5 separate regions of the Homo sapiens genome follow, and all the other regions are linked to region 3. Evidence: fine-mapped expression QTL. A gene starts in region 3. Each other region holds a variant in brackets. All regions are shown on one strand. Distances are between the middles of the regions. Region 1 overlaps PALLD (palladin, cytoskeletal associated protein). Region 2 overlaps PALLD (palladin, cytoskeletal associated protein). Region 3 holds the start of CBR4 (carbonyl reductase 4). Region 4 has its middle 38 kb from the start of CBR4. Region 5 overlaps PALLD (palladin, cytoskeletal associated protein).

Evidence for each region.
Region 1: its variant is fine-mapped to the expression of CBR4 in monocytes (TOPMed, PIP above 0.99).
Region 2: its variant is fine-mapped to the expression of CBR4 in esophagus mucosa (GTEx, PIP 0.97).
Region 4: its variant is fine-mapped to the expression of CBR4 in monocytes after Pam3CSK4 (Quach 2016, PIP 0.95).
Region 5: its variant is fine-mapped to the expression of CBR4 in monocytes (TOPMed, PIP above 0.99). The same link has a PIP of 0.9 or more in blood mononuclear cells and whole blood.

Annotation. Positions count from the first base shown.
Region 1 is chr4:168,847,956-168,854,213 of GRCh38, forward strand. The region is part of intron 10 of PALLD (palladin, cytoskeletal associated protein); the gene reads left to right. It overlaps LOC102723331 (a long non-coding RNA gene), which reads right to left. Exons shown (of 2, transcript XR_007058358.1): 2 at 1-6,258. Among named protein-coding and RNA genes, the nearest start is that of CBR4, 160 kb to the right of the region's middle. The variant CT/C (reference allele first, on the strand shown) is at 3,497.
Region 2 is chr4:168,927,356-168,933,613 of GRCh38, forward strand. It overlaps PALLD (palladin, cytoskeletal associated protein), which reads left to right. Exons shown (of 22, transcript NM_001166108.2): 22 at 1-1,086. It also overlaps a transcript of CBR4 not described here. Among named protein-coding and RNA genes, the nearest start is that of CBR4, 80 kb to the right of the region's middle. RefSeq lists an enhancer at 3,473-3,974. The variant T/G (reference allele first, on the strand shown) is at 2,864.
Region 3 is chr4:169,007,599-169,013,856 of GRCh38, forward strand. It overlaps CBR4 (carbonyl reductase 4), which reads right to left and starts at 2,657. Exons shown (of 5, transcript NM_032783.5): 1 at 2,350-2,657; 2 at 38-158. The coding sequence starts at 2,491. CBR4-DT (CBR4 divergent transcript) reads left to right here and starts at 2,831. Exons shown (of 2, transcript NR_185919.1): 1 at 2,831-2,858; 2 at 3,186-3,462. RefSeq lists enhancers at 1,658-2,607, 2,707-3,036.
Region 4 is chr4:168,968,726-168,974,983 of GRCh38, forward strand. It overlaps a transcript of CBR4 not described here. Among named protein-coding and RNA genes, the nearest start is that of CBR4, 38 kb to the right of the region's middle. The variant A/ATT (reference allele first, on the strand shown) is at 2,711.
Region 5 is chr4:168,858,123-168,864,380 of GRCh38, forward strand. The region is part of intron 10 of PALLD (palladin, cytoskeletal associated protein); the gene reads left to right. LOC102723331 (a long non-coding RNA gene) reads right to left here. Exons shown (of 2, transcript XR_007058358.1): 1 at 6,250-6,258; 2 at 1-5,851. Among named protein-coding and RNA genes, the nearest start is that of CBR4, 150 kb to the right of the region's middle. The variant T/C (reference allele first, on the strand shown) is at 3,071.

The DNA.
Region 1 (6,258 bases), 160 kb before region 3:
TTTCCCAATCAGTATTATTCAGAATTATTTTTTACTTCCCTGTAATAGTTACTCAATTTTAGAGCCAGAATTTAGCCTAATCTACTCATTTAACCTCTAAGAAAACTGAGCCCAGGGGGTGCTAAGTTCCTGGAGAGTGGTCCTCAGGTGGTGACTGAGGACTGAGTTAGCCTCCTCCGGCAACCCTACCCCCGTCCCACCCCACCCCACCCCACCCCACCCCTGGGCAAAGTGAAAGTGAAGCAAACTGAGAGGAACTCCTCCACTGTCCCTTCTGCTTACTCAGCAGATGGGAGCCAGCCACTTTGTTTTGTCCTGGGGCCTGTCCTTGATGGCTTCTAAGACTAAAAATCAAAGCTGTAAATTTGTGTAATTTAGAGATTGAAGGTACTGATCGTTGTTGTCAGTGACTGGAAACCAGGCCTATTGAGCAAGAGCCATTGTTCAGTGCCTGTCAGCCCAGAGAGTGTGCCGAATGCACTGGCCATCTTAGACACAGATCTACTTGGTGGTGTTCTGTGTTTTTTCTCCTAAAAGAAGGCTTCTCACACCACCACTGATGAGAAAACAATTCGAGGAAAACGTAGGCACACTCAGTACATGAAGGGAGACACTATTAAAAGCAAAAAGAGGGTTATTGTCAAACTTAGAACGATGCTAATTTGAGTTCTGAGCTCTAAAACTGGTAGAATTCAAACATTAAATGTAGAATGTACTAGTATTCTATGCCTTAAACAGTTGAAAGGAAAGGCTTACATTGGCAAAATGTATTTCACACCAAATAATGATCCTAAATCAGTCTTTTGCAACGTCATAAGATGCAGCTTTGTAAGTATACTTTATTTCTAAACTTTACCAATCTCAAAGGCTACCTGGAGCTCTTATTTCTGAAATAATTTCAAGATGTTCATTCTCTACAGTTTTGTGGTATGATTAACTTCGAAGTCCACTGCAGACACAAATGAACTTTCCCTAAAATGCAACACGAGAGTACTAACTACAGTCAGTAAAGATGAGAGGGGGTTATTTTGTAGCTCTTCCTGCAGGCTGTGAGAATTTTTTTCGTTAAAAAATTCGTTAAAAAAGCAGGATATACTGCTTCAGTCCTTACCATGAGAGCCACTCCCATCGGAACATAAATTAGTCTTAGTATATTTCAGGTTCTCCCACATGTTCACATTCCAACTGGGTGCAACAGTTGACTTTTGTCTTTAACTTTCCTTGGCAAACCGATAGCATCAGAGGAAGAGATAAGCTGCCCCTTAGGGAGCTGATTGTAATGCGTTCCAGACGTCTGCACGCCCCTGGTGCAAGCACCAGCTTTCTGTTAAAGACTCAGGGTTATGTTGTTTGGATGTTTTGTTGTTTGCTTTTTGAAAAAGCCAGATCAGATTTTTGTCATTGTATAAACTCCAGTAGGAGAAGAGGGATGCGTTTTTAAGGTGATTTCTAGAATGCTCTGGCCGACTTAGCTGCAGAAGAAAAAGGAGAAAGGAAGAGACAGTGTATATTTTGGCACTGAAACTTCTTTAGTAACAATGCATTCATTCACAAATCTGGAGAGAACTGAATGTCTGCTTTTTAAAGTCTGAATTGAATTCTCGACTAGACTTTGAGACCCTGAGAAGGTTTTCAATCCAAACCATGCTTAATATTCACGTTTTATCATTATTGATGGAAAGTGAAAGAAAATTTGAATTCTTGGTAGCCAGATTTGACATTAGACTTTTACATTTATAACCTCACTTAAACTTTACAAGAAATCTCATTACAGGTATTATTATCCCCATTTTTAAAGCAAAAAAAAAAAAACACTGACCCTTGGAAAGAAGAACTGGCACTATTGAGATTCACACCACGTGTGGCTGGCTGCATCAGGGGGCTCATAAAGAATTCAGAGCTGGCCCCCAGCTTATCTTCCCCATTCCCTCTTCTCACCCCCAAGCTACCTCCATTAAAAGAGATGCCAGGCTATATTTATTTTATTATGTATACTTACGAATGCATTTGCTCATCTTTGGTGTCATAAAATACAATGAATAAACTCCTATCCAGTTTTTCAGTGTATTTCCTTAATTTTTAAAGCAATAAACTCCTTTAATCCTCCCTTATACTCAATACTAAAAAATGAAAGATCTGATTTTAAGCAGGAAAAGTTTTGTCTTAGCATATAGCCAGGAAACTTCATCTGCCTAGGTCCTGAAATGTAAGTGATCTGCCAGAACCAAGCGTGGGGGTAGCTCGCGAGGCCTCAGCCCTCCTGCTCCTGTGTGAGAGTGCTTTCTTCTGCAACCTGGCTCCTGGAAGGAATGAATGCTCCCCCTTCAGCCCCTACTCCCCACCAAGAATTTAAAAGATAAGAGGGAAACATTTCCCTGACTCTAAAATGGTTTGTTTTTAATATGGTATGTCCAGGCCTGCACTACTAAAATCCTTCATAAAAGTCCTCTAGAAGATAACGATTGTTCACATTGCAAACCTGTTTGAAAAGCCTGGAAAAAATGCGGTATACTGTAGGGAAAGTCAGTCTCCTTTTCTCACTTATATAATTTGTAAGTCTGTCATTTCTTTTTTTTTTTTTTTTTTTTTTTTTTTTGAGATGGAGTTTTGCTTTTGTTGCCCAGGCTGGAGTGCAATGGTGCGATCTTGGCTCACCACCTCCACCTCCCAGGTTCAAGCTATTCTCCTGCCTCAGCCTCCTGAGTAGCTAGGATTACAGGCGTGCACCACCACACCTGGCTAATTTTTTTATTTTTAGTGGAGACGGGGTTTCTCCATGTTGGTAAGGCTGGTCTTGAATTCCTGACCTCAGGTGATCCGCCCGCCTCGGCCTCCCAAAATGCTGGAATTACAGGCATGAGCCACCGCGCCCAGCCTAAGTCTGTCATTTCTAATATGCTCTCCTAGTTTTAGCTCAGTAGTAGCTGAGTATTATACAAAATAAGCTCTTTTTACTGCTGCTTAGCATGTGTCTGCGAACCCTAGCTCAGTACCTGGCATTCCATGGGCAGGCAAGAAAAGTTTGCAGAATGAATTAATCTGGCCCAAGTGTGACTGAGAGGCCAGAGGAGGTCAGTGGGTGCCGTCTCCCAGGCCAGCAGCACACACACAGCTTCCTACAGTCTCCCTTCTTGTCTTTGTCTCTTTACATCCTCTTCCCTTCCTCCCATGTGTCTCTAACCTGCCAATTGCACCAACATTTATTCCCTGCTGCAGAGCCTGTGGACCCACAGTCTGGCTTACCTTTATTTTCTCCATCTCCAGAATATGTCTCTCCTCCATACCCCCATAAATTAAAAGTGACTTAAATATATAAAATGGAAGAGAGAGGCAGGATAAAACTGTTTGATAACTTAATAGTACAACTGGCCAGTCTCTCGTAGATTTTTTGCATTCATTCCAAACCTGTTTTTTGTTTTGTTTTGTTTTTGAGACGGAGTCTGGCTGTTTCACCCAGGCTGGAGTGCAATGGCGCAATCTCGGCTCACTGCAACCT[CT/C]GCCTCCCGGGTTCAAGCAATTCTCATGCTTCGGCCTCCCTAGTAGTTGGGACTACAGGCGAGCACCACCTCGCCCAGCTAATTTTTGTATTTTTAATAGAGACGGGGTTTCACCATGCTGGCCAGGCTGGTCTCGAACTCCTGACCTCAAGTGATCCACCCTCCTTGGCCTCCCAAAGTGCTGGGATTACAGGCATAAGCCCCACGCCTGGCTGAAACCTGTTTCTATTAAAAGACTTATACCTTGGAACTTTAATAAGTAATTTATTAAAGAACCGTTAATATTAGACATTAAAATAATTATGACTCCCTTACCCCTATTTGATAAGCATATAGGTGACGTTACACTAAATACTATCCCTGTCTGCCAAAATAATCTAATGTTGAAGCAGTCCACCGCATTTCAGGTCTCCTGGAAATGTGCTGCGATTTTCTGAAAATTAGAGGCAACAACTTGCTGTTGAGGACAGGAAAAAAAGAGGAGGCTAAGACGCAAGGTCCTCTGAAGCTTCTGCCAGCTCTCTCACCAGAACCTAACTCTTGATACCAGTGGAGTGAATCTGGAAGTCTCCTGCCTTCCTGAGTGAGTTGGAGACGTAGACACTACCTGGACAGGCTGGAGAAATGAGGGACTTAAAACGTAGCACACCCCTTGCCCCATGCCACCTGACTAGAAATGCCTGCCAAAGGTATATGGACATGCAAGGCTGGCACAGATGTAAAGCTCAATATATTAAACTAGATAGCAAAGAAATATACACCAAGCCCAGCAATACAAAGCACCCTGCCTTCATGCAGTTAAACATTCTTCTGTTTTAGGCCACACTGTACTTGCTGGCTTCATGTGGCTTCATGAAGGCAAGTGCTGTGTCTGTTTTGATCACTACTAGATTTCTGGCACCCAACATGTAGTAAAAGCTCAATCAGTATTTGTTAAATTCATTGAGAGAGCTGGGAAAGAAGGTAGAATGAAAAGAAAAGAAAAGAAACAAACAAAAACACAAGCCTGGGCAACATAGCTAGACTATCTCTACAAAAATTAGCCGGGTGCAGTAACTCACACCTGTAGTGCCAGCTACTCGGGAGGCTGAGGCAGGAGGATTGCTTGAGCCCAGGAAGTCAAGGCTGCAGTGAGCCGTGACTATGCCACTGCACACTCCAGCCTGGGCAACAGAGTGAGACCCTGTCTCAAAAGGAAAGAACCATCCACAAAGTTAGTAGTGCCTACAAGAGTGTAGTTGCTCTTTAAGCTTGAATTTTTGGTTATTTTGCAAGAGGTATTATTTGCCTTAAGCCATGGTAATTAGATTTATTCTGCTTTGTGGGCTTTTAGATGAGTTAATCGGCTACAATTTCTCTTAATTCCCTCTAATGCTTTCTAGGTGTGGATATCAAGAAACCTACATGTTGTGTTTAGAATATTTTATGTATCACAGATATCAGTGGGTAGTAGACTTTGCACTGGAATTGCCCTTTTCCCTGCCTCAGTTGTTTTTGGTAATATTAACTCTTTATTTACTGTTAAACTTTACAAAAAATGTCAAGTTTACTTTTTAGGACTAATAAATTAGTTTTCATAATTTTAGCCATTTAGGAAAAACAGAAGAAACCACATTGCAGTGTAAAGGGAGAAAAGTCACACATAGCTAATTATTGATAGGAAAATGAGAAGTGAGATAGCAACATCTGAGAGGACTTCATATATGAGCATCTCACAGAGTAACTTTTTCTTTTAGCCAGCATAATTACTAGCTTTTCCCATGTGTGTACAGACATTTTTTTCCTTAGAAATTTTGGCCTTAAAAGTCAAATACAGGTTGTTTTACAGATGATCAATGGTCCTTCTAGAAGAAGTCCACAGAAGCTCTCAGATGCCCTCTAGACCAGCCTTTACTCACTCCTCTGTCAGCATCCTCCCTCCCAGCTCGCATTTTACCAAAGCTAGAAAAGACCCTCAAGGGCCTGGGTGCGTGGAATTATTAGAGACCAGATAAAAGACATGTAAGGAGTGCTGGTGTGGCAGATGCTGCGAAAAAAATGTGCCACAACCTCTGAGGGCAGGAAACTGAAAGACCTCGTGTGGTTTGGAGGCCTGAGGAAAGAGCCTCAGGAAGTGATGTTTGACCTGACATCTGAAGGCTAAATGGGAGACAGAGACAGGTGTGCAGTCAGGAGGAATCGCACATTGAAGGGAAGGGCTGAGACTCTGAGAATGGGGGTGGGAGGGAGAAAAGAAGAGGCTACAGGGGGCGACCAGGCCTGGTGGGCCAGGTGAAGGAATTTGGAGTTGATCCCAAGAGCAAGCGAAAGTCACTGGGGACAGGGAAGTCAAGAGTCACAGGATTCCATGTGGTTTTTGAAACTGGCTGCATGGAAGAGAACAGCGTGTGGGAGAAGTGTAGGAGAGGGAAAGGCAGGACTCATGATGGTTGAGATGAGACGGATGGAGACAGGCAGCTCTGACTTCTGCGGTTCTGACTTGTGAAACAGGATCAGGGATGGTGCCACTGACTAAAGAGGAAGAGAGGATTCCAGTAACAACTAAGCACTATTCTCTTTTAATCTCTGCAACAGCCCTACTCTGTGGGTTCTATTATTACCCCATTACATAGATGAGAAAACAGAGGTACGAAAGATTAAATTTGTCTAGAGTCTCCTGGTAAGTGTTCAGTAAATGTTTGCTACTACTGCCTCTGTTTACTCATGGAGTCATTCATTCATTCATTCATTCATTCATTCATGGATGGTATGCTGTATCTAA
Region 2 (6,258 bases), 80 kb before region 3:
GTCAAGGAACCCAGGGCCAGCTGGAAGTGTGGAGCACACATGCTGTGGAGCACACATGCTGTGGAGATTGCAGTGTGTCTGAGGTTTGTGTAGTAGTGGAAGATTTTAGGTATGTAGAGCAAGTTGAAAATGGATTGAGACTGCATGGTGGCATAAATGAGAAATTGCCTGTAGCATCTAGTCTACTTGAAGGAAGTGGAGACATAAGGAGAGACAAAAACAGGTTTGTGCCATAAAGTATTTTTTCAAAGACACCAAGATGTGGTAAATGAAAATTATTAGTTCACTTCCCTGCTGCCATGAAACTTTGCCTTAAGAAGGTGCTGGATTCCAAGGTTTGTAAAGGCATCTCGGTAAAGACTGCTTTTTGAATGCATATGATTTTGCATCAGCTAGACTGAGTTGATTCTGACCAGACTTGATGGTTTTAAGTCGGAACCGATAAATTTTAAAAAGGAGAAAAAATAATTTGACCTAGTAGTATAAAACATGAGGCTTTAATGGTACTTTGCTATGAAAAGAAAACACTGTATTCCTTATGCAAAACACATGTATCTTTCATTATTTATAAGTGGCCTCTCTTAGCTCAGTTACTCAATTCATACGTAGTATTTTTTAAAATAATTTTATATCTGTGTACCACCCCATATATTTCATATTACTGTTTCACATGTACAGCTTTCTACTTCTTTGTAAGAACACCAACCAACCAAGGTTTAAGTGATTAATAGGCTTGAGCACCGGGTGGCAGATGTTCTATGCAGTGTGGTTCAAGTTTCTTTGACCGCACTTATATGCATTGCTAATATGGAATTTAAGATACCATACACAGTCTCTCATGGACCTATCTCTATTGTAGAATTATGACTTATGTCTTACTTGCCAAATTTTTCTGAATGTGACCTTTTTTTGCTGATTTGCTGGGTTTGGGATTAACTAGCATTATTTTGCCACCTTTATATTGTATTTATAAAAAAAAAAGTACTATCAATCAATCATACTACTTTGGATTGTTGTGCTGGTGTAATGTGGATTTAACATCAATAAATATTTGACAAATAATAGTTGCAGTTTTGTGAAGCAAAATAAATATTCAGTTTTAGTTTTCTGTTGCTGCCATAACAATTAGCATAAACTTTGAGTGATGTTTGAGGCTTCAGCATCACTCATTTATTACTCACAGTTCTGTAAATCAAGTTCGGGCAGGATGTAGCTGGGTTCTCTGTTCAGGATCTTATAAAGCTAAAATCATTGTATCAGCTGGACTGTATTCTCATCTGGAGCTCAAGATCCTCTTCAAAATTCAAGTGGTTGTGATAGCTCTGTGCAATTGTAGAAGAGACGTCTCCTTTAGTCCCTCAGCCAGGAGCTCTCTCTCTCAGCTCCTGAAGGCCGCCTGTATTCCTTGCCATGTAGCCCGCTCCATCTTCAGGGTTAGTGGTGAGAATCTCCTTCACCTCAGATCCCTCTCACACTTTCTCTTTGTCAAAGGCCCAGTCCCTTTTAAATTACGTCAGGCCCATCCAGATAATCTCCCTTTCTTAAAGTCACCTGACTTTGGGAACCTTAATTACATCTGCAAATCCCTTCAAAGCAGCAGCTAAATCGCCATTTGATTGGAATAACTGAGAGAAGGTGTGTATACACCAGAGGATGGGGATATTAGGGGCCATCTTACAGTTCTGCCTGCCACAGCAATGTACTGTAGGTATGCATGTAAATACACACCAGTGCCATGACGTACAAGGATACATAAAATACAGCAAGATGATATAAATTAAAAGTGAGGGGAAAAGGAAGAAAGTAAGTATAAATGGAACAAGGAATGAGATATTACACACACACACACACCCATATTCATATACACATATAGCATTAATATCTACATAGTTACAACAGACGGACAACATATTTGGGCCTAGGCTTTCCTACTACGGGAAAGAGAAAGCTGGTCATTTATCTAATTCACAGCCTCCATAAGGTGAAAATATTTCATCTTTTACATATGCAATATAATGGAGCTTTGAGGATACATTTGAATTAGACTAGAATTGTGTATTTCACATTGTCTTCTATACCCCATGACTTGCTATGTAGTTTACAAGATTCATTATATATTTTAATGCTGAATTTGTCCTTGATTTTCCCTTTTATGAACATGCATAACATGACAATCCCCTTGGCTTGCTCAGTAGCTACAACCTCCTTTATCATCATGTAAATTTAGTTTGACCCCTTTAAATTATAGAAATACAACTTCTATATTATGGTGGTGAGGAACTTGAGTGTTGGAGTTGGCCAACCAGGATTTGAATCCTAGCTCTTTTGATCATGTGTGACCCATAAGCAAGTTACTTTACCTCCCCAAGCCTCAGTTTCCTTATTTGGAAAATGGAGATTAAAATAGCACCCCTCTCTTTGTGCTGCTGTGAAGATTATATGGGATGATAATTTTGACATGGTACCTGGCACATAGTAAGAGCTCAATAAATTTCAGCTATTATTTTAGTGTAGTTGGAAACTAAAGTAAAATTTCAATTACAAAATGTGTACACACCTAACAAAATTCCACAGATGGTTAAAATTTGTGAACTTGGATGGGAAAAACATTACCCCCTAGCTGAAATTTAGAATTTCCTTCAATTATGAATGTAGGCAACAAAACACAACAGTATAAAATACCTGGGACTGTCCTAGTAAAAATTATATTACAAATATTGAAATATCTTAAAATCCATCTAAATTCAGCATTACTTCAAAATTATGGCAGTTGTTAGAGTTACCAATAGATGTAATTTATAGGCATTTGTATTATAAATTTGTTTTTAATACTTTGATAATTACTTAAAAATAATTTGTTTTA[T/G]GTATTTTATGCCTCCATGAACATTATTTTGAGAAGGGATCCAGAAGATTTACCAGAGGGTCAAAAAGGCATATGGCACCAAAAAAATTAAGAACCAGGCCCTACAGAAGCTTAAATACGTAGAAAAGGATAAAAAATTTGAGGAAAGCCTAATTTGTCATTAGTAGAAGAAGGAACAAAACTAATTAATTCATACAATGAAATATTACTTACTATTCAGAGTTAAAGGTAAAGAAATGGATTTACTTCTATTGGCAGGGATAAATATGAAAAACAGCATTTGACGAGGAAGGGAAGTTACATAAGAGTGATGTCAGCAAGATGGCTGACTAGAGGTTCCTGGCATTCATCCCCCCAAGAAAGGATCAACAAATGAACAAACAGTTAACATTCAACTGAAGTGTCAAAGGAAGAGCACTGGAGTGCAGTGGGGGTAGCTGCGGTCACTGAAAGTCCAGAAGGCAGCATGGAGACACCTTGTCTCTGCTGCCCATGCCCCTGCATCCCCCAACTCTGACTGGCCTGGAGTCAAGAGGAGAAACTTTCCTTTGCTGGGAAAACGTAAGCAGAGCCCCATCAGCCCCCATTACCACTGCAAACACCTACAATCCTTACTACAGGAGAATTCCACAGTCCTCACAAGCCCTGAACCGACTTTAGAGAGCCACTGTCGATTGCACAGCTGCATTCCTCTGGATTAGGAACATGAGATATGTACTCTCCACCCCTTAGGTGCCTGCTGTGGGGCCCAGTAGCAAATGCACCTCTCCAGCCCAGCGGCTCTGTCATTCCACCAAGCACACATGGGTGGCTGCAATGCCACAACCCTGGAGGCTCAGAACCTGGGCCCAGGATTGGCTGTGACTCTGGTTCTGCACAGCAGGAAAACCAACCATCATTGCCTGAACTTCCAGGCAGAGAAACAGTCTAGCAAATTCTCCCAAAGCATACATACCTACCCTTGAGCTGGCCAAACTGGGCCCCTGAGCTGCTAAGCACCTGACATGCCCTCAGGCCAGAACCAGTACCAGCCTATCTCCTAAGCCTGAGAAACAGCCCAATGCCCCCTACCTCCATGGACATGCCTCCAGGCCTACCCAGTGGAACTGTGCCCAGGCTAGGGTATGAGAAACAGTCCAGTGGGCCCAATCCCAGCATACATGTCCCTAGACCTTCCCAGCAGCCCTGTGCCCATGCCCAGGGCCTGAGAAACAGCTTGGGAGATTAACTTCCAGTAGACACACCCCTGGGCCAGGTGAGCTGTCACATGACCATGCCCAGGGCCTAAGAAAGAGCCCCATGGGGTCAACCCCCATGGACACACCCCCTGGCTGGCTGAGAGGCACACCACTGTCCCAAGCCCAAGAAACAGCCCACTTGGCCCACCTCTGGCAGACACACCCCCAGGCCAAATGAGCATGCCTGTACCCAGGGCCTGAGAAACATCCCTGTGGCCCCAATCCCAGCAAGCAAGACCCCAAGTTGGTTGACACCGTTCACACACATGCCCCCAATTTGAGAAACAATCCAGTGAGCCCACCCCAGCAAAGCTGCACCACCACTGCTACAAATTCTCACAGCCTAGGCCACTGGGCACTTACAAACATCAGCAGACTGGATTACAGCTGAAGAATCTGCACAGACACTACAGTACTGCATCCACCTAGAACCAAAGCCAACACACCCCCCCTAACTGACACTATAAGATCCTCCAATACAAATACGTCTTTCCCTACAAAACCTTTCATCAAATTAGAAGAGGTGACTGTTCTACCAGATGCATAGAAATCAACATCAAGGAACATATCAAACATGAAAAAACAAGAAACCATGATACCTCCAAAAGAACACAATAATGCTCCAGTAACACACCTTAATCATAAGGAAATATGTGAAATGCCATAAAAAGAATTGAAAATAATAATCTTAAGGAAGCTCAGTGAGGTAAAGAGAATATAGCTAAACTGTTCCCTCAAATCAGGAAAGTAATTCATGATTTGAATGAGAAATTCAACAAAGAACATAAAAAAAAAAAACCCAACAGAAATCTTAGAGTTGAAGAATTCAATGAATAAAATAAAAAATGCAATCAAGAGCTTCAACAACAGATTAGACAAAGCAGGGGAAAGAATTTCTGAACTTGGAGGTAGGCCTTTTGAAATAACTCATGCAGACAAAAAAAAAAGAATAAAGAAAGCCTACAGAATGTATGGGACACTGTTAAGTGAACAAATATTTGCATTTTGGAACTCCAGATGGAGAAGAGAAGGAAAAAGGTATAGAAAACAGATTTAATGAAATCACAGCAAAAAACTTCCCAAGTTTTGGAAAAGAGATGAACATCTAGCTCTAAGAAGCTTAAAGTCCCCAAAGAGATTCAACCTAAACAGTTCCTCTCTGAGGCACATTATAGTCAAATTGTCAAAAGTCAAATACAAAGAAAGAATTCTAACAACAGCAAGAGAAAAACGTCAAGTCACATATAAGGGAATACCCATTAGGCCAACAGCAGATAGCAGAAACCTTACAGGCCGGGAAAAAAAGAAATAATATATTCAATGTACTAAAAGAAAAATATTGCCAGTAAAGAATATTGCTTTAATATTCTTTATTAAATATAAGCAAAGCTATTCCTCAGAAATGAAAGAAAATAAAGTCTTTTTCAGATATGCAAAAGCTAAGGGAAGACTAGCCTTACAAGAAACACTCAAGAGAGTTTTAGATCTGGAAGTGAAAAGACAATAACCACCACCATGATGAAAACAAATGAAATTATAAAATTCACTTGTAGAGCTGATATACAAAAGAGAAAGAGAAAGGAATCAAACCTTATCACTACAGAAAACCACTAAGCCACAAAAATAAACAATAAGGAGGATTAAAGAGAAAGGAATATACAACCGGAAAACCATCAATAAAACGACAAGAGTTAAGTCCTCACCTACCAATAAATAACCTTGAATGTAAATAAATTAAATTCCCCAATTAAAAGACGTTGAATGAATGAATGAATAAAAAAACCATGCAACTATATGCTGCCAAATAAAAACTCACCTCACCTGTAAAAGACACACAAAGACTGAAAGTGAAGGGATGGAAAAAAATAATCAATGCAAACAGAAACAAAAAGTGAGCAGAAGTAGCTATTCTTATGTCAGATAATACAGGCTATTTAAGTAAAAAGTGATAGAGACAAAGAAGGACATTATATAATAATAAAGGTATCAATTCAGCAAGAAGACATAACAATGGTAAATATATATGCACCCAACACTGAAGCACCCAGATATATAAAGCAAATATTATTAGATCTAAAAGGAGAGATAGACCTCAATAAAATAACAGTTGGGAACTTTAACACCCCACTTTCAGCACTGGACAGATCATCTAGACAG
Region 3 (6,258 bases):
TATATATATAAGAAACTTATTTAAATCTGTGACCAACCTGTTAATACCAGCTGCATTTACCAAGAAATTTACTCGACCTAAATGTTTCTCCAGCTCTTCAAATGTATTTTGAACATCATGTTCTTTAGCAACATCACAGCTAAATGCCAAATGATCTCCTACACAACAAAGTTAAATAAGAATTACTTATAACTCAAATTTTAAATTTACTCAATACACATTTGTTAAGCATCTATCTAAGATGGCAGGCCTGTGCTAATCTAGAACCTAAAGATTAAAAAAGTAATGTCATGAGGCCTGGCTTTCATAGAGTTGGTCTAATGAAACTGGGATGCGGGAACAAAGAGGAAATAAAGTACTACTACAGAAAGTTAATTTTAAAATTTTCTTTTTAATCAACAAAGGGGGGAGGGCTTTTTCAAGTTATAAAGGCTCTGTAAGATTCATCTAATATTTATAGCTTTAACACTGAATTCATGCTACCCAATTCGACAGTCTTCTGGGTTTTATATTCCTTTTTTGAAATTTATGTCTAATTCTGTCAGGTTTTTGTTGAATTAGTTTCTTTGGCCCTGAACGGGAACTCTTGGGTTTCTTCTTTTTAAGTGCTACGGATGCACTATGGCACATATATTATAACGACTATTATTCAAACCTGACCATCAGGAGAGATGAGACAACACAGGAAGCTATAAAAATGCTAAAACTACAAACCACGGGGGGAAAAAAACACTTTTTACTAAAAGCAACTGTTACTTACCACTTTTAAAAAATGGTTAAATGCCAAAAAAAAACTACACTTCAAAGGAAAACAAAGCATTCCCTATGTAATCTACCATTTTAATACTCTAAAATGTAGGATTGTTTTTAAAAGCTAAAACAATTCTTTATTTTCTGTCTGACCTTGATAAATATGCTTACACCAACACTACCCCATCAAGCCTTTGGAAACAGTAAGCGACCCGGGGAATTATACTTTCTAGATGAAAACCAATCACTCATGGAACACGATTCAAAGGAATGCAGGGCCCAAAAGCATCCTGTGTCTCTCTTACTCTTGGTTTTCACCCGAAGACTTGTGTCCACAACCACCTTTGAAAGCCCAACTAATGGCTTCAATCCAGTCCAGCAAACACTGATGGCTTGGGGTGACACAGTAAGGGTCACCACTCTTCCCCTCCTTTGTTAGAATGGTAAGGAATATGAGCTTCAAGAAGCATTCACTGACACTCTCCCTGACCTATAACTTACAGAATCTTTTTTCTTTTAGAGAGCCCAATAGTCTCCCAACCAGCACTGAACAGGTGATACCAAACCGATCAATAATGTTAACTTAAAAATGAACAGCCACACCTGGCGTCTATAGTCCCAGGTCCTTGGGAGACTGAGGCGAGAAGATCTCTAGAGCCAGTAAATCAGGAGTTGGGGTCCAGCACGGGCAACATAATGGGAAGCCCTCTCAAAAAAAAAAAAAAAAAACCAGATACACAAAAACAGTAAGAGCCACAAGACGCACCCCTAGGCCTCTATTCTCCCCATGCCTCCCTGATAGTAAATGAAGTATAATTTTGTCCATTCTGGTGATTAAACAAATAGCATCTTCGGATCTAACGTCCTATTTCTCCCTAAACTCAATGAAGAGTTATATTCACAAAATGACTAATCCATTCATAATAAGCCGGAAATAAAAAACCCTGAAGTTTAAATGCAATAAAAAAGAATTTGGCAGAACAAAGTTCAATTGTCCATTTGCAAAACTCACCAAAACAATTTAATAACATTAAAGCAAACCAGGTATATCTCAAAACTGGCTGGTACTCAAAAGGGTTTCTCTATCAAACACTGCTTTGTGCATTCGCGCAGGGCCAAGGCACGGCCCTTGGGCAAAACTGAAGGGAGCCGTTGGTACCTGCACTCCCACCTTTCCTGCCTGAACTCCTTTCGACCCAGCCCTGTCTCCGGGGGCCGAGAACTCGCCCTTTTCCCTACATTAAAAGTAAACTGTTACGTGGCTCTCTCCCACAACAGGGAAGCTCCTCAGCGTTAGCACTAGCCGCAGGGCGGAGGGTGCGTATAGCGGGGCCTCAAAAGACTACGAGGTCTCAAAGAACACCCCAAGTGTTCAGCCCTCGGCGGCAAGCTGCGTGGCCGGCATTCTGCGAGGCATAGGGAGATCGCGGGTTTCTGCACGAGACGCATTCTACCCTTGGAACGGGAGAGCGCCTGCACGCGGCTACATCGAGTAACCCTAGAGCCCTAAAGGCCAGACCCGCTCTTTTTACAAAGGAGATTTTCTTTAGGCGCCTGGACCGCGGCCATACAACTGGACAACTCCAGTTTGGTACCTACCGCCGAGGTCACCGGCGGCGGCTTTGGCCCCTTCCAGGTTTCTGGCAATGACCGCCAGTCGGTAGCCTTTCCGGGCCATTAACTGGGCCACAGCTCTGCCAATGCCTCGGGAGCCTCCAAAAACAGCACACACTTTGTCCATCTCGGAGTCACAAACTCGGAGGAAAGAGGGTAGGGAGTGGGAGCCCCTCTCCAGGTTCCCTCAGGCTTTTAAACAACCGCGGTTCCAAAAAAAAAAAAAAGAAAAAAAAAGGCAAACCGCAAAAAAAAATAACGCCGCTCGACACCTCCTGCAGCCGCACAATAGTAATGCAAGACGCCGTGAAAAGGAGGAAGAGCTCGACGTCGCCGCGTCGACGTCATCACGCACGGACTCTTCCGCGCCACACCTAACAAATACGCCGACGAGAGCTCCCCGCCGGCGGAAGAATGGCCTGGAGAGGGCCTCGATGCTTGCTGGGACCTGTAGTCTTGACGCATGAGAGCAACTGGCGCAGGCGCGCTGCTCGGTGGGGAATGTACTTGTGGCACTGAGGGGGATCCTCTGTCCCCGCTGGGTCATATCAGTCGGGATTCGAGCCCCGGTGACCAATCGACCCGGTTTGTTCGGAACTGACAGGGTTGTCAAGACGCTGGGCTTTCCCTGGCAAACCAAGACGACCTGATCACGTAGTTAGAACCCAGAGAAAGCATTACTGGGCGTGAGCCGGTCGGGGCTCCGGTATTTGCCCTTCGCCCAGGTGTTGTTTTGGCTACAGACTTGATGTCCTACCTGTTGAAGAAGTCCCCAAGAATCGCACCCACACCAAAACCTACCCTACCTGTTCCTCCCCCAGGTTGCTGTAGAAATGGACCTCTACCCGCCCAGATGTTACCATTCATCGCGAAGGGTGTCGTGAAGATGAATGCCCTGTCGAACATCATCCAGCAGGAGGTCAAGGAATTTTAACTGAATGATTGAATAGTCTTGCAAGATCTATGAAACAAGCTTCGGCTGCTGTAGAGAAACAAAAATGGGTTCCTGCAATTCTAAATAAGATGTACTGGGTGCTCTGAGAGTTAATAAGCTAAAAAATTCAATGTTTGTTACAATTATAGTGTAAACAGAAAGCATTTCTGATACAATATTATTTTACTAGATTCAGAAAAGTATGAGCCATGGTCCCTACCACTAAAAAAACTACAACCCAGAACTACAGGACTAATACACATGAAACACTAGGAGGTATCCAAAATCATACTTAGTAAAATGCAAAATTATATTAACACAAGAGCTCCGAGAAAATGGAGATCAGTGAAGAATGAAGGGGTGCATGGAAAAGCTGGATTTGAGGGCTGGATGAGGTTTGAAAAAAGGAAAACAAGAGCAAAAAGTCTATAAATAAGCAAGTTGAGCATTAATTTAAATTTGTTATTCCTATTCCATTTAGATCCAAAAAAAGATTTGAAATGGTTTGCAAAAATACATGAGTATTTGAATTTAAAAGGCAAAGAGGACCACTGCCCCTTCTCCCACAAGGCCAGAACAATAAATTAGGTCAGTGGAAAAAATACGAATAAAGTCATGCTATAAGAATCTATTTAGTATTAAAGAAGAGATTCATAAACTTAGAGTTTCCTGCCAGCGAAAGCAACAAAGGAAATATAATTACAAGTGGTAATTTCTGTAAGAAATCAGCCTCCTGGTTATGCAGCAGAGAAGCCTGAGCAAAACTCCCTCCTCATAGGTCCTCCTAAATGGCACACTAAGCATTGTAGTAGACAGTGAGCTTCATGAAAAGAAAAAGAGATTGTAAGGCTGTTTTCATAGCATCTATTAGACTTTATTAAAAGCAAATACAATAGGAAGTTAAACAATATAAGCAAACAGTCACACATAAAAATTGTGTCTTTGAAACAATATATGTTTGAAACAATGAGGAAACAAGCCTGAGGAAATTTGGGATGGTGCTATATTATAGTCAGCTTTAAAGTCAGGTGCCAAGCATTAAACAGGCCTTTAACTGCAGAAGTAATAAGATAAGAGCTGCATTTAAGAACTATTAGCAGGCCAGGCGTGGTGGCTCATGCCTGTAATCCCAGCACTTTGGGAGGCTGAGACAGGAGGATTGCTTGAGTCTAGAAGTTCAAAACCAACCCAGGAAACACAGCAAGACCCCCACCCCCCCGACCCCCATCTCTACAGAAAATACAAAAAAAAATTAGCTGGACATGGTGGCCTACCTGTGGTCCCAGCTACTCGGGAGGCTGAGTTGGGAGGATCATGTAAGTCCAGGAGGTCAAGGCTGCAGTGAGCCATGATTGCACCACTGCAGTCCAGCCTGCATGACACAGCAGGACCCTGTCTCAAAATAACAGTGTTCTAAAAAACAAACAAACAGTTTCCCAGTGATGTAAAAATGGGTCAGATCAAATTTGTCTATTCACTTTCCTACTATACACTATGCAATCTTGGAAAGAAAAAACTGTTTTACATAAATTACCAATATAAGGGTCAGCCTAAATGCCAACTGTATTCCTGCACCTTAGGTCAAACCAGAGAGGTTTATCTTTTGAACAGTTCTCTCCATTTGCTAGGAAAATGATTATTTTTTTTTCTACACATTGTTATTTTAGCAAAAAAAAATGGTTTTTAGATCTATGCCATCTATCATGAAGATCACTAACACATGATATGAGGTGACATTCAGAATTCTGAAAACCTTCCAACTTTTCTCACTGTATATATACTGTAAATGGATAAGCTGGGCTTTTTATTCAACACATACCTCAGGTTAAACCTCAAGGTTATTATTTATTTTTTTTCCCTCTTAATACAATATCACCACTATCCCGGGTGAGAATACATCTATCACAGCACATCACCCATTAGCTGAGAAGGTTACAGCAGGGGAAGTTTCTCTGTAAGCCCCTGATAGTGAAGTGAGGATCTGTAAATTAAACTGGGTCTCCCCTACCCAGCAGGACATTGAAGGAAGCCATTAGAATGACCCACCTTTAGTCTTTCCTTCTCACTAAACATGCCACTTTTGTGGTAATATTTTAACCATATGTTATACTTTAACTTAAATCCACATAGGATATATTTTCTCTTGGCTCCCACAATCGAAGGAGAAAATTCCTTATGTATAAGGACTGTTATACAAATTTTTAAATATGCATACCTAGTATTACTTTTCTGATTACAAAAGGAATACCATTTAATTGCTAACAGTTAGAAAACATAAACTTTTTAAAGTAAATAAAAACTCATTGAAAGCATTGTACACTTTAAGCGTGTGAATTGTATCGTATGCAAATTATATCCCAATGGAACTGTTATTGAAAAAGATGTAATTTAAAGCCTACTGCCCTGTTATACGAAATTTGAATCTGCAACTAATTATAAGGGGGTTGTACCTTTCATGAATATTTTTTTCATACGTCAAGATTTATAATGCCCAAGATTCCAAATATGCAGGAAAATTTATTTATAAGAAATTTATGAATTATGATTGAATATTCATTGAGAATCCTCTTTACAAATGCACCATACTAAGCACATCCAGCTTATCAGATCCATAATTGAAGCATAACCCTTCCTGCCAGCAAGCAGTCTCCCAGGATTCTTCAGGCAGTGATGATAATCTGCACGACCCAAATTGCATGTGGCCAGCTAACTTCTCCATACAGACCATGCTCTTCTTTCAAGAAGAAAGATTAGAAAGCTGCCTTAGTGTGGCTGCACAGATATAACTTTTATGATTAAAAAGCATGTTGATTTCCTCATTGGCATTCTTGTATCCAATCTGCTGGGTAATCTAAATTGTAAGGAATGTACTTTTTATCACTTACAAAAGTTTATTTCATTTTGATTGGGAACAAAAAATGTGGCCCATGAGCTTGTTATTTTGTTGAATTGGCGTTTAT
Region 4 (6,258 bases), 39 kb before region 3:
ACCACACTTCAGCCATTAAGTCACTGAGACTGACATTAATCTCTGCCATTCTACCAGGATATAGTATTATTTCCGATTTACTATCTTGCAGAGAAAGAGAAGGGTCAGTGGTTTCTATTTGTCTTTTCCTACCATGATAATTCTCTCTCCATAAGTCAAAGAACCAGTGTGATGGTTCTGCCTGTTATTAAATATGTCCATGCTGATTATGCATTCAGGAAGTGGGAAAATGACCACAGAGTATGTCTAGGGACACAGTGGACCGAAGTGTAAAACAGATTTGGGCCAGCACTCCATTCATTACCCCATCTCCACATGCTCCCATTAACATCAGAGCCACTGTGGTGTTTTGGGTACCCAAGCAACAATGTTAGCTTGACTGTATTCCCAAGAATCTTTGAAACACCTGGTTAGATTCCTTTCTCCAGTGTACTGTTACTTGGACAAGTGAGCATAGATTCCTTTGAGAAAGGTTGGACAGCTGCTCTGTGTACATTTGCTGTATTATTGCAGGGTTCTTCATGAAGGAGACCCTTCAATTGATTAGGTCTGGATCAGAGAACTGGTCCAAGTCTGGGAACTGAGCAAAAGATCATAATTTTTCATTACGGTAAACAGAATGATCCCCCTAGAGATGCCTATTCTCTAATCCTTGGATCCTGTGAATTTTACGTGACATGGCTCATGGGATTTTGCAAATATAACTAAGGTTATACACTTCAAAATATAGATTATCCTGGATAATCTGGCTAGACCCAGTATAATCACATGAACCCTTAAAAGCAAAGAAATTTTTTCTAGCTGGTCAGAAAACAGCAGCAGAAGGATAGAGTTCAACAGATTCAAAGCATGAGTGGGACTCAACCTGCCACTGCTAGTGGACTGAGCCTCCATGTTGCCCATGGAAACATGAGAAGGAATGCAGGCAGCCTCTAGAAGCAAAGACTGGCTGCCGGCTAACAGCAACAACAACAAAAACGGACCTCTCATATTTAAGAGATCCCGCTGATCTACATACTCTTCAACTTTGCAACTGAAATTGTAGTCCACAGACCAGTGGAATCAGCATCACTTGGAAATCTGTTAGAAATACAGCATCTCAGGCCCCACTCCAAATCTACTAAATCAAATGATGCATTTAAAAAAAGATTCATAGGTAATTCCTGCTGATGTTGGAGAAGGCCTGCCCTATATCAATTGATATTATCAGACTTATTAATTTTTGCCACTCAAATGTCAACGAAATTTCATGTGGTCTTGATTTGCATATCTCTAGTGTGAACACAGGTTCAACACATGCTGGCTATGTGTTTCCTCTTCTATGAAACGCCTGTTTTTTATCTTTTGCCCATTTTCCTAACGGGTTATCCTTATTGATTTATTGTTGCATTATATATTCTTGATACTGACTCTTTATTAGTTATCTATATTGCATAAACTTTTTATCAGTTTGTAATCAGTCTTTGCTATCTTTAAGGGATTTTTTTGATAAATAAAAGGACTTAATTTTAATATAGTCAATTTGACCAAACTTTTCTTTTTTATGTTTAAGAATTCCCGCCACACCCCAGAATCAGAAAAATATTCACTTCCATATGTTCTACCAAGCATTTTATTTTGATATTTAAGTACTTTTTTCCATCTGGAATTTACCTTTGTGTATCATGTGAAGAACCAATTTCAATTTCTTCCCTACCTGATTTTTGTTTTATGTCCTCATCAATCCACAAAAGAACATTTTTTTTGAATAGACTATTTTTTTCAAATTATTATTATTTCAATTTTTTAAGGAACAGGTGGTATTTGGTTACATGGATAAGTTATTTAGGTGTGATTTCTGAGATTTTGATGTATCCATCACCTGAGCAGTGTACACTGCACCCAGTGTGTAGTCTTTTGTCCCTCACCCCCCTCCCACCCTTCCCTGCAAGGCCCCAGAGTCCATTATGTCATTCCTAATGCCTTTGCTCCCACTCATAAGTGAGAACATATGATGTTTGGTTTTCCATTCCTGAGTTACTTCACTTAGACTAACAATCTCCAGCTTTATCCAGGTTGCTGCGAATGCTGTTATTTCATTCCTTTTTATGGCTGAGTAGTAGTCCATGATATATATATATATATACCACATTTTCTTCATCTACTCGTTGGTTGATGGGCATTTAGGCTGGTTCCAGATTTTTGCAATTGTGAATTGTGCTGCTATAAACATGCGTGTGCATGTGTCTTTTTCATAAAATGACTTCTTTTCCTCTGGGTAGATACCCAGGAGCGGGATTGCTGGATCAAATGGTAGCTTTTGGTTCTTTAAAGAATCTCCATACTGTTTTCCATAGTGGTTGTACTAGTTTACATTCCCACCAGCAGTGTAAAACTGTTTCCTTTTCACCATATCTATGCCAACATCTATTATTTTTTTATTTTTTAATTATGGCCATTCTTGTAGGAATAAGGTGGTATCACATTGTGGTTTCGATTTGCATTTCCCTGATAATTAGTGATGTTGAGCATTTTTTCATATGTTTCTTGGCCACTTGTATATCTTATTTTTTATCTTTTTTGAGACAGGGTCTCACTTTGTCACCCAGGCTGGAGTGCAGTGGTGCAACCCTGGCTCACTGCAACCTCTGCTTCCCAGGTTCAAGCAATCCTCCCAACCTCAGCCTCCCGAGTAGCTGGGATCACAGGCACACACCACCATGCCCAGCTC[A/ATT]TTTTTTTTTTTTTTTTTTTTTTGTATTTTTAGTAGAGACAGGGTTTCACCATGTTGGCCCTGGTCTCGAACTCCTGACCTCAAGCGATCCACCAGCCTTGGCCTCCCAAAGTGCTGGGATTAGAGGCATGGGCCACTGCACCTGGCCCATTTGTGTATCTTCTTGTGATAATTGTCTACTCATGTCCTCAGCCCACTTTATGATAGGATTATTTGTTTTTTTCTTGCTGATTTGAGTTCCTGTAGATTCTAAATATTAGCCCTTTGTCAGATGGATAGTTTCTGAATATTTTCTCCCACTCTGTGAGTTGTTTACGCTGCTGATTATTTCTTTTGCTGTGCAGAAGCTTTTTAGTTTAATTAAATCCCATCTATTTATCTTTGTTTTTGTTGCATTTGCATTTTGGTCCTTGGCCATGAACTCTTTAGGCCAAGGTCTACATGAGTTTTTCCAGTGTTATCTTCTAGAACTTTTATGGTTTTGGGTCTTAGATTTAAGTCTTTGATTCATCTTGAATTGATTTTTGTATAAGGTGAGAGATGAGAACCCAGTTTCATTCTTCCACATGTGGCTTGCCAATTATCTCAGCACCATTTGTTGAATAGGGTGTGCTTTCCCCCACTTTATGTTTTCATTTGCTTTGTCAAAGATCAGTTGGCTATTAAGTATCTGGCTTTATTTCTGGCTTCTCTATTCTGTTCCATTGGTCTATATTTATACCAGTATCATGCTATTTGATAAGTATAGCCTGTAGTATAGTTTGAAGTCGGGTAATGTGATGCCTCCAGATTTGTTCTTTTTGCTTAGTCTTGTTTTGACTATGCAGGCTCTTTTTCGGTTCCACATGAATTTTAGGATTGCTTTTTCTAGTTCTGTAAAGAATGGTGATGATATTATGGCAGGAATTGCATTGAACTTATAGATTGCTTTTGGCAATATGGTCATTTTCACAATATTGATTCTACACAGCCATGAGCATGGGATGTGTTTCCATTCGTTTGTGTCATCTATGATTTCTTTCAGCAGTGTTTTGTAGTTTTCCTTGTAGAGATCTTATACTTCCTTGGTTAGGTATATTCCTAAATATTTTATTTTCTTTGCAGCTGTTGTAAAAGGGGTTAAGTTCTTGATTTGATTCTCAGCTTGGTTGCTGTTGGTGTATAGCAGTGATATTTATTTGTATATACTGATTTTGTATCCTGAAACTTTACTGAGTTCATTATCAGATCTAGAAGCTTTCCAAATGAGTCTTTAGGGTTTTCTAGGTATACGATCATATCATCAGCAAACGGTGACAGTTTGACTTCCTCTTTACCAATGTGGATGCCCTTTCTTTCTCTTGTCTGATTGCTCTGGCTAGGACTCCTAGTACTGTGTTGAATAGAAGTAGTGAAAGTGGGCATCCTTGTCTTGTTTCAGTTCTTAAAGGAAATACTTTAAACGCTTCCCCATTCAGTATAATGTTGGTTGTGAGCTTGTCATAGATGGCTTTTATTACCTTAAGGTATGTTCCTTCTGTACCGATTTTGCTGAGGGTTTTACTCATAAAAAGCTGCTGGATTTTGTCAAATGCTTTTTCTGCATCTATTGGGATGATCATTATCTTTGTTTTTACTTCTGTTTATGTGGTGTATTGCATCTATTGGCTTGTGTATGTTACACCAACCTTGCGTCCCCATCATGAAATACACTTGATCATGGTGCATTATCCTTAATATATTGTTGAATTCAGTTAGCTAGTATTTTGTTGTGGAGTTTTGCATCTATGTTTATTGGGGATATTGATATGTAGTTTTTTTGTTGTTTTTGTTATGTTCCTTCCTAGTTTTGGTATATGGGTAATACTGGCTTCATAGAATGATTTAGGGAGGATTCTCTCTTTATCTTTTGGAATAGTTTCAGTAGGATTGGTACCAATTCTTTTCTTGTTGCCTGTGATGGAATCCAATGGTGTGATCTCAGCTCACTGCAACCTCCACCTCCTGGATTCAAGCAATTCTCCTGCCTCAGCCTCCCAAGTAGCTGGGATTACAGGCACCTGCCACCACATCCAGCTAATTTTTGTATGTTTCGTAGAGATGGGGTTTCACCATGTTGGTCAGGTTGGTCTCAAACTCCTGACCTCAGGTGATCCACCTGCCTTGGCCTCCCAAAGTGCTGGGATTACAGGCGTGAGCCACCACACCCAGCCCCAATTCTTCTTTGAATGTTGATAGAATTCAGTCATGAATCCATCTGGTCCTAGCCTTTCATTGTTGGCGATTTTTTAATTACTCTTAATCTCGCTACTTGTTATCGGTCTGTTCAGAATTTGTTTCTTCCTGGTTTAATCTACGAGGGTTGTATATTTCCAGGAATGTATCTATCTCCTCTAGGTTTTCTAGTTTGTGTGCATAAAGGTGTTCATAGTAGTCTTGAATGATCTTTATCCATTCTGCCATTCTGTATCTTTTAAGTGGACCATTTACACCATTTATAGTCAACTTTAGTATTGAGATGTAAGGTACTATTCTATTCATCATGCTAGTTGTTGCCTGAATACCTTGGGCTTTTTTTCATTGTGTTATTGTTTTATAGATCCTGTGAGATTTATGCTTTAAGGAGGTTCTATTTTGGTGTATTTCAAGATTTTCTTTCAAGATTTAGGACTCCTTTCAGCATTTCTTGTAATGCTGGCTTGGTAGTGGCGAATTCGCTCAGCATTTCTTTGTCTGAAAAAGACTTTATCTCTCTTTCATTTATGAAGCTTAGTTTCACTAGATACAAAATTCTTGGCTGAAGAGAGGCTAAAGAGAGGACCCCAATCACTTCTGCCTTGCAGGGTTTCTGCTGAGAAAACTGCTGGAAATCCGATAGGTTTTCCTTTATAGATTACCTGATGCTTTTGCTTCACAGCTCTTGAGATTCTTTACTTCATCTTGACTTTTGATAACCTGATGACCATGTGCCTAGGTGATGATGTTTTGTGAAGAATTTTCCAGGTGTTCTTTGAGGTTCTTGTATTTAGATGTCTAGATCTCTGGCAAGACCAGGGAAGTTTTCCTTGATTGTTCCCTCAAATAAGTTTTCCAAACTTTTAGATTTCTCTTATTCCTCAGGAACACCAATTATTCTTAGATTTGGTCATTTAACATAATTCCCAAATTTCTTGGAGGCTTTGTTCATTTTTTTTATTCTCTTTTGTCTTTGTTGGATTGGGTTAATTCAAAAGCCTGGTCTTTGGGCTCTTATGTTTTCTTCTATTTGTGCAATTCTATTGCTGAAACTTTCCACTGTATTTAGCATTTCACTAAGTGTCTGTTTCATTTCCAGATTATGATTGTCTTTTCTTTATGATATCTATTTCTCTGGAGACTGTTTCTTCCATATCCTTTATTTTTTTTTAATTTCTTTAAGTCGGTTTTCACCTTCCTCTGGTATCTCCTTGAGTAGCTTAAATAATCAACCTTTTGAATTCTTTTTCTGGCAATTCAGAGATTTATTCTTGGTTTGGATCCATTGCTGGAGAGCTAGTGTGATCTCCTGGGGATGCTATTAAAGAATCTTG
Region 5 (6,258 bases), 150 kb before region 3:
AAGAATGATGTAATTTTCATGGAGGGGGGCCAGGTTCCCTTCATTTGTTTTATTTATATTAGCTGAATTCCAGGGGAAAATGGGCTATGAAGCATGAGGGCTGCTAACTATATTTAGCCACACAAAGTTAGTACATCAGGGGTCATTTTTTCTTTAAGTTATACACTCATAAATGGGCTGGAAGATATTTTTCCCGGCATCTTGTTTTTATAAAGTTTGATCAAGCATAAATACTTTTATTAAGATGCTATCTTTTATTTCGAGTGTGAAGAAAGTATCCATTGTAATCTCTTTAATTTGGCATGTTTCTCTGAGATACTGGTTTTTGGGTCAAAAGATGGATAACTAATAACAATACCTTGGTTCAGAAGATTGTATTAACTTTCCAGAGTGCTCACGCCTGTCATCCCAGCACTTTGGGAGGCCAACTCAGGAGAATTGCTTGAGCTTAGGAATTGGAGACCAGCTTGGGCAACACAGGGAGACCCCATCTCTACAAAAGTAAAAAAATTAGCTGGGCACGGTGGCACATACCTGCGGTTCCAGCTACTTGGGAGGCTAAGGTGGAAGGATCACTTGGGCCTGGGAGGTCGAGGCTGCAGTGAGCCGTGATAGTGCCACCGCACTCCAACCAGGGCAACAGAATGAGACCCAGTCTCAAAAAAAATAAAAATTAAAAAAAAAAATCCAGAGTGGGCTTTAAGAAGGAAGCAATAGTAGTTTCTTGGAAGAAAGATAATGTGTGTTTAAGAGTCCCGTTCTGCCCATTGTCTGGCACTATTCAATCTGGATTCACTCCCATCCCCCTCACCTTACTCTAAATATAAAAATAGTCGGTGCGTCTTAAGACAGTAGACTATCATTTTTGTACTTTTGCATTAAGACTTTTATTTAAATGTATTTATAAACTGGAGAAAAATTTGTAGCATTTAAACATAAAACCTCAGCGTTATAATTGGTCATTCCTTCCTCTTGTCAACGTGTTACAACATTTTTGCTTTGCTCTGTTACATGACTCGGGGCTTACCTGCATTTCACGTGAGAGAAAAGTCAAATTCATCTCCACCCCACAGCCTGCTATCTTCTGCCTTTTACCCTAAATCTTTGGAGGCGACAGCTTCCTCCCCATGACTGATAGTTATCCATGCTCACAGCTGCTGGCAGGACTGACTCCTTTACAACTGTGGCCTTGTAGTTGATCTGAACAGGATGATCCTGTCTATGGAAGCGGAGTCTTCTCTCACTGCCTGAAGGAGAAGGCTCTGCTGGAGATGGAGGGCTCTCATCTGTCAATGGGTAGCACCGACGGTGCCCCAGACATGCTGACCATGTGTGGATGTCTTAGAAGAGTGGAAAGGCTTGAGAAATGCAAGCTTAGAATCATTTCTAATATTACTTGATGGGAAGTCAGCAAATAGGAAACTTGTAAAAAATTGGAGGACAACTTTTTGCCACTATCATGGACAAATCTATCACCACTACCCCAAATATCGGTCCCTCAGAGACCAAGTCCTTAGATTCTGAGGCTCTGCTGTATAATTCCTGTTCAGTAGAGCATCTGGCGAACCTCTAGTAGGACAAACAGACAGTAACCCTTGTGAGAAGTGAGGGAACTTTTAGAACTAGGCCTCAAGGAGCACTGTACAGTAGAAACAGAATGTGAACCACCACAATGAAGACCACATATGCAGTTTGTTTTCTAGTAGTCACATTAAAAAGGAAAAAGAAATTAATTTTAATAGTACATGTTGTTTAACCCAATATATTCAAAATATTATTTTAACATGTAAATAATATAAAAATTGTCATAAGATCATTTTCCAATATCTTTTTAAACTAAATTTTTTAAATCTGCTGTGTACTTGACACTTACAACACGTCTCAATTCTGACTAACCACTGTTCAAGCACTTAATAGCTACATGTGGCTAATGGCTACCATAGTGGGACAGTGCAGGTCTGGAGGATGTGAAATCGGGTGAACACACAACCTTTACACCCGAAACAGTGCTGCAGAATTGATGATAATTACTCTAAATGCTCATCTCTTATCTTTTCGCGTCTGAAAACTGCTGCTGAGTGTACAAACCAGGTAACAGTAATAAGGGCCAATCCCAGTGGTAGAAATGGAGTTGATATGGTGGAGAAGGATCTGTTGACACCAGACCCTCAACCACAGCCATGCACAGCTGGACAGAAGCCCCCTCGGACTCCCAGGTCTGGAGTCGGGGCAGAGGCAGAAAGTCTAAAAAGAAATACATCAGTGTAGTCATTTCAGTAATAAATGCTGTGAAGTAAATAAAACAAGATAGTAAAAGAGAGATGGGAGTACTCTTCTTGCTCACTCCAATAGTTGAGTGAGTCATCTGGGAAGTAAGTTGTGCTGTGGAGTGTGAAAGGTGATTTTAATTCAGCCTGAGAGCCAGGCGCAGTGGCTACTGCCTGTAATCCTGCACTCTGGGAGGCCGAGGTGGGCAGATCACTTGAAGTCAGGAGTTTGAGGCCAGCCTGGCCAACATGGTGAAACCCTGTCTCTACTAAAATACAAAAATTATCTGTGCCTGGTGGTGCACGTCTGTAATCCCGGTTATTTGGGAGGCTGAGGCACAAGAATCACTTGAACCCAGGAGGCGGAGGTTGCAGTGAGCTGAGATCGTGCCACTGCACTCCAGTCTGGGATGACAGAGTCTCAAAAAACAAAAAATTCAGCCTGAGGAAAATACTTCCTCTAGTCCTCAACGTGACTAAAGAGATCCTCATTTTTCTTTAAGAGAGAATTTCATTATTTGAAAACACAATGCCCAAAGAAATGGAAGAAATTGAAGAAGCTGGTTTCTATGTACTTCAAATAATATTTTGGTGTGAGGCCCCACATGACAACATCTTTCCCCCAGGATACCACAGCTGACATAGCTAAAATATGAAGTATGGCCTAAATAATACACAGTGAGCTGATAACTTAGGAAATATTTTTTGTTTGTTTTAGCCAAGGCAAACGAATTAAAAATTTTAATGTTTTGTTTCCATATTTGCTTAAGTAAACTTCAAAACTAATTACTTGCAAAGAATTT[T/C]GCCTCGGCTACATGGATGACCAGTGAATGCTTTTGGGAGTGTAGGACTACACTGAATAATCGAATAAATCTATTGAATATGGAATTAAAAAAAAAAAACTAAGTAAAAAAGCATTAGAACCACCATACAGCTTATATCTATATGCTTATTATGTATGGGCTGGCTTAGGAGGGAACTTGAGAAATGGTAACAGTATTTGGTTGATGCTGGAGAGGGAAATTGGACTGGGAAGAAAAAGTAAGAGATGAAGATGTACTTTCAGTGTTCTCTTTATATCTTTTGCATTTTGAAGAGCAGAGGTTTTTAATTTTGATGAAGTCCCAGTTCATCAATTTTTTTTCTCTTATGGATCACCCTTTTGTTGTCTTATCTAAGAAATCTTTACCTAACTTATGGTCACAAAGATTTTCTCCTATGATTCCTTCTTGAAATGTTATAGTTTTAGATTCACATTTATGTTGAAGATTTTTTTTAATTTTTTTTTATTTTTTTAGAGATGGGGTCTCGCTCTGTCCCCCAGGCTAGAGTGTTGTGGCTGCAAGATCATGACCTCCTGAGCCCAGTTGATCCTCCCATCTCAGCCTCCCGAGTAGCTGGGACTACAGGCATGCATCACCATGCCCAGCTAATTTTTTAGTTTTCTGTAGAGACAGGGTCTCACTTTGTTGCCAATGCTGGTCTCAACCTTCTGGACTCAAGTGATCCTCCCCCTTCGGCCTCCCAAAGTGCTGGGATTACAGGCATGAGCCACCATCCCTGGCCTGTTGAAGACTGATATTAGTTAACTTTTGTATAAGGTATCAGTTGTGAGCTGAGGTTGGAAATCCAATAGGGTTTGGAGGGGTTTTTTGTTTGTATTTAATCATGTGTATTCTTTAAAAAATAGGATTTAATTTCAAGAGATTAAAAAGAAATATTGTATAGAAATGTCTGCAGTTATAATAAGTAGTTCAATTTTAAAAAGAAAAAGTTGTTTTGTTTGCTTTGTTTTGAGACAGGATCTTGTTCTGTCATCCAGTCTGGAGTGTAGTGGCATGATCATGGCTCCCTGCAGCCTTGTTCTCCTGGGCTCAAGCAAGTAGCTGGGACTACAGACTCACACCATCACACCTGGCTAATTTTTTTTTTTATTTTAGCATAGACGAGGTTTCACTGTGTTGCCTAGGCTGGTCTCAAGATCTGGGCTCAAGTGATCCTCCCACCTCAACCTCCCAAAGTGCTGAGATTACAGGCATGCAACACTGTGCCCAGCCAAGAAAAAAGTTTTATTATGACTACTGTACTGATTTTCAGGAACAGTCATTGTGCTTTAATTCTCTAAGCCAAAAATGTCCAATTCTGTTGGGCAAAAAGACTATGTTGTTGATTGCGCTCTCTCATATGGTCCCTTGCCTTCAGCCATTTTCATAATCAAAACTTGATGGCAGTATTTTGTTACAGGGTAAGAAACTAAAAATGGTAAAAGCCATTTGTCAGGGTAAATCTGAACTAATTATTTAGATCAGCTGAAATAAAAAGGGTTACAAAGACAAGTTTTCTGTCTTCAGGAGGGGATGTGGATACTAAAACTTCAATGGAAATGAAAAGATATGGATAAATTTGCATCTGCCAGATCTGCTTAGGGAAAGCATATACATGAAGTGGAGGAAGTCTTCCCATATCCCTTACATAAGGATTGAGATCTGCTGCCAGAGACACATGTTGCAATATCAATAGAAGGTCGTCAAATTGCCTTCCATGAGGGAGTGGGTCTGTTTAATGCTATCATTTTGTGACATTGAGAACACGTGAGGCCACCCACACCTTCTCTGCCCTTCACCAGAGCTGGGGCCAGCCTCTTCCGATAAATGCTAAATAATGACTATCGCTTTGAAGGTGCACTTATTAGCAAGGGAGTCCATGTGTCTAGGGTTCTTTTACGCCATTACAGTGTATGAATAATGTACATTTGACGGGGGATGATCCTCTCACCCTACTCAAGTTTGGAACCATTTGACAGATAAACTGAGGAGTCAGAAAGAGATCCAAGCACCAGATTTGTACTGGGGAGAACTCAGAGAAGAAAGGGGATGCACTGCTGGGCCTCATGAGTTGGCTTATACTTCACCTTGAGCTAAGCATACTAATACCCAGTCCAGGCAGCATTGAACAGCTCCGCGCAGATCTCACCCTCCAAAAAACAGGAAGAAAAAGCCCTCTCACTGCAAGCAAGATCCAAAGAGAGAAGAGCAAGGGAGGGGCTGATGTGAGCATGCCCAGATCCATCCCCCACCCATATTCGCCACCAAGGGCGGAGACAGGCAAAGAGGGCCCCTGTCCTGGAAATCCCTCCATGAGGAAGCAGTGAAGGATGCAGGGCCCACTCTGTCAGTGTCTAGTGTTCCACTGATCCTACATAGTAATTTTGAAAGACGATAGCATGATGTTCCTGAAAGGAAAAAAAAAGTTTCCTCTATGAGGTCATTAACATATATCTTGAGTGACTTTATTGTCTTCTGGTTCATTTTGACATTTTTGTAAATTCTATAGATCTTTTATTTACTCCTGTGATATATTTTAAAGATCAACAAATGTCCACACCAAAGAAAAAAATCACCAGTAAGTTCGTAACTTTTATATTTCTATACTTTTAACTGTTACATTAATCCTGTCTTATTCAAAAGGTATTCACCACAAAAATACTTACTAATCTTGGTTTCCTGGTATGAACTCCTTGTGCTTCTGAGATTAGAGATACGCTTTTCTTTACGGGTGGCCACAATCAAGAGATAAGATCATGCCTAAAAGGACAAGTTAGGAACAGAAGTGTGATTAAGTATATTCTGTATTAGTTTTAATTAGGACTATAGTCCTTTAACAATTTCATCATATTTAAGCTTGAAAATATACATGATTGCTGATACCACTATAGTCATATACATGTATATATGCACACATACACATGAGAGATGAGACTGTGTTACTCAGACATAGAACCACGGGACAGTCAGCTACACATTACTTCTAGGCAATGGTTCATCTTCTCTCTTCAGGGAAAAAGTAACCCTTGTTGGAACCTGACAGATTTTGAACATATCTTTTCTTTGTTCTTTGTAATGTTTATCTGTATTCTTGTTAGAAACGACTTTCTGGTTCAGTTATTTAAAAGATTAAGCCTTTTAGTGAAAGAAGTTCTCACCTTGGTGTC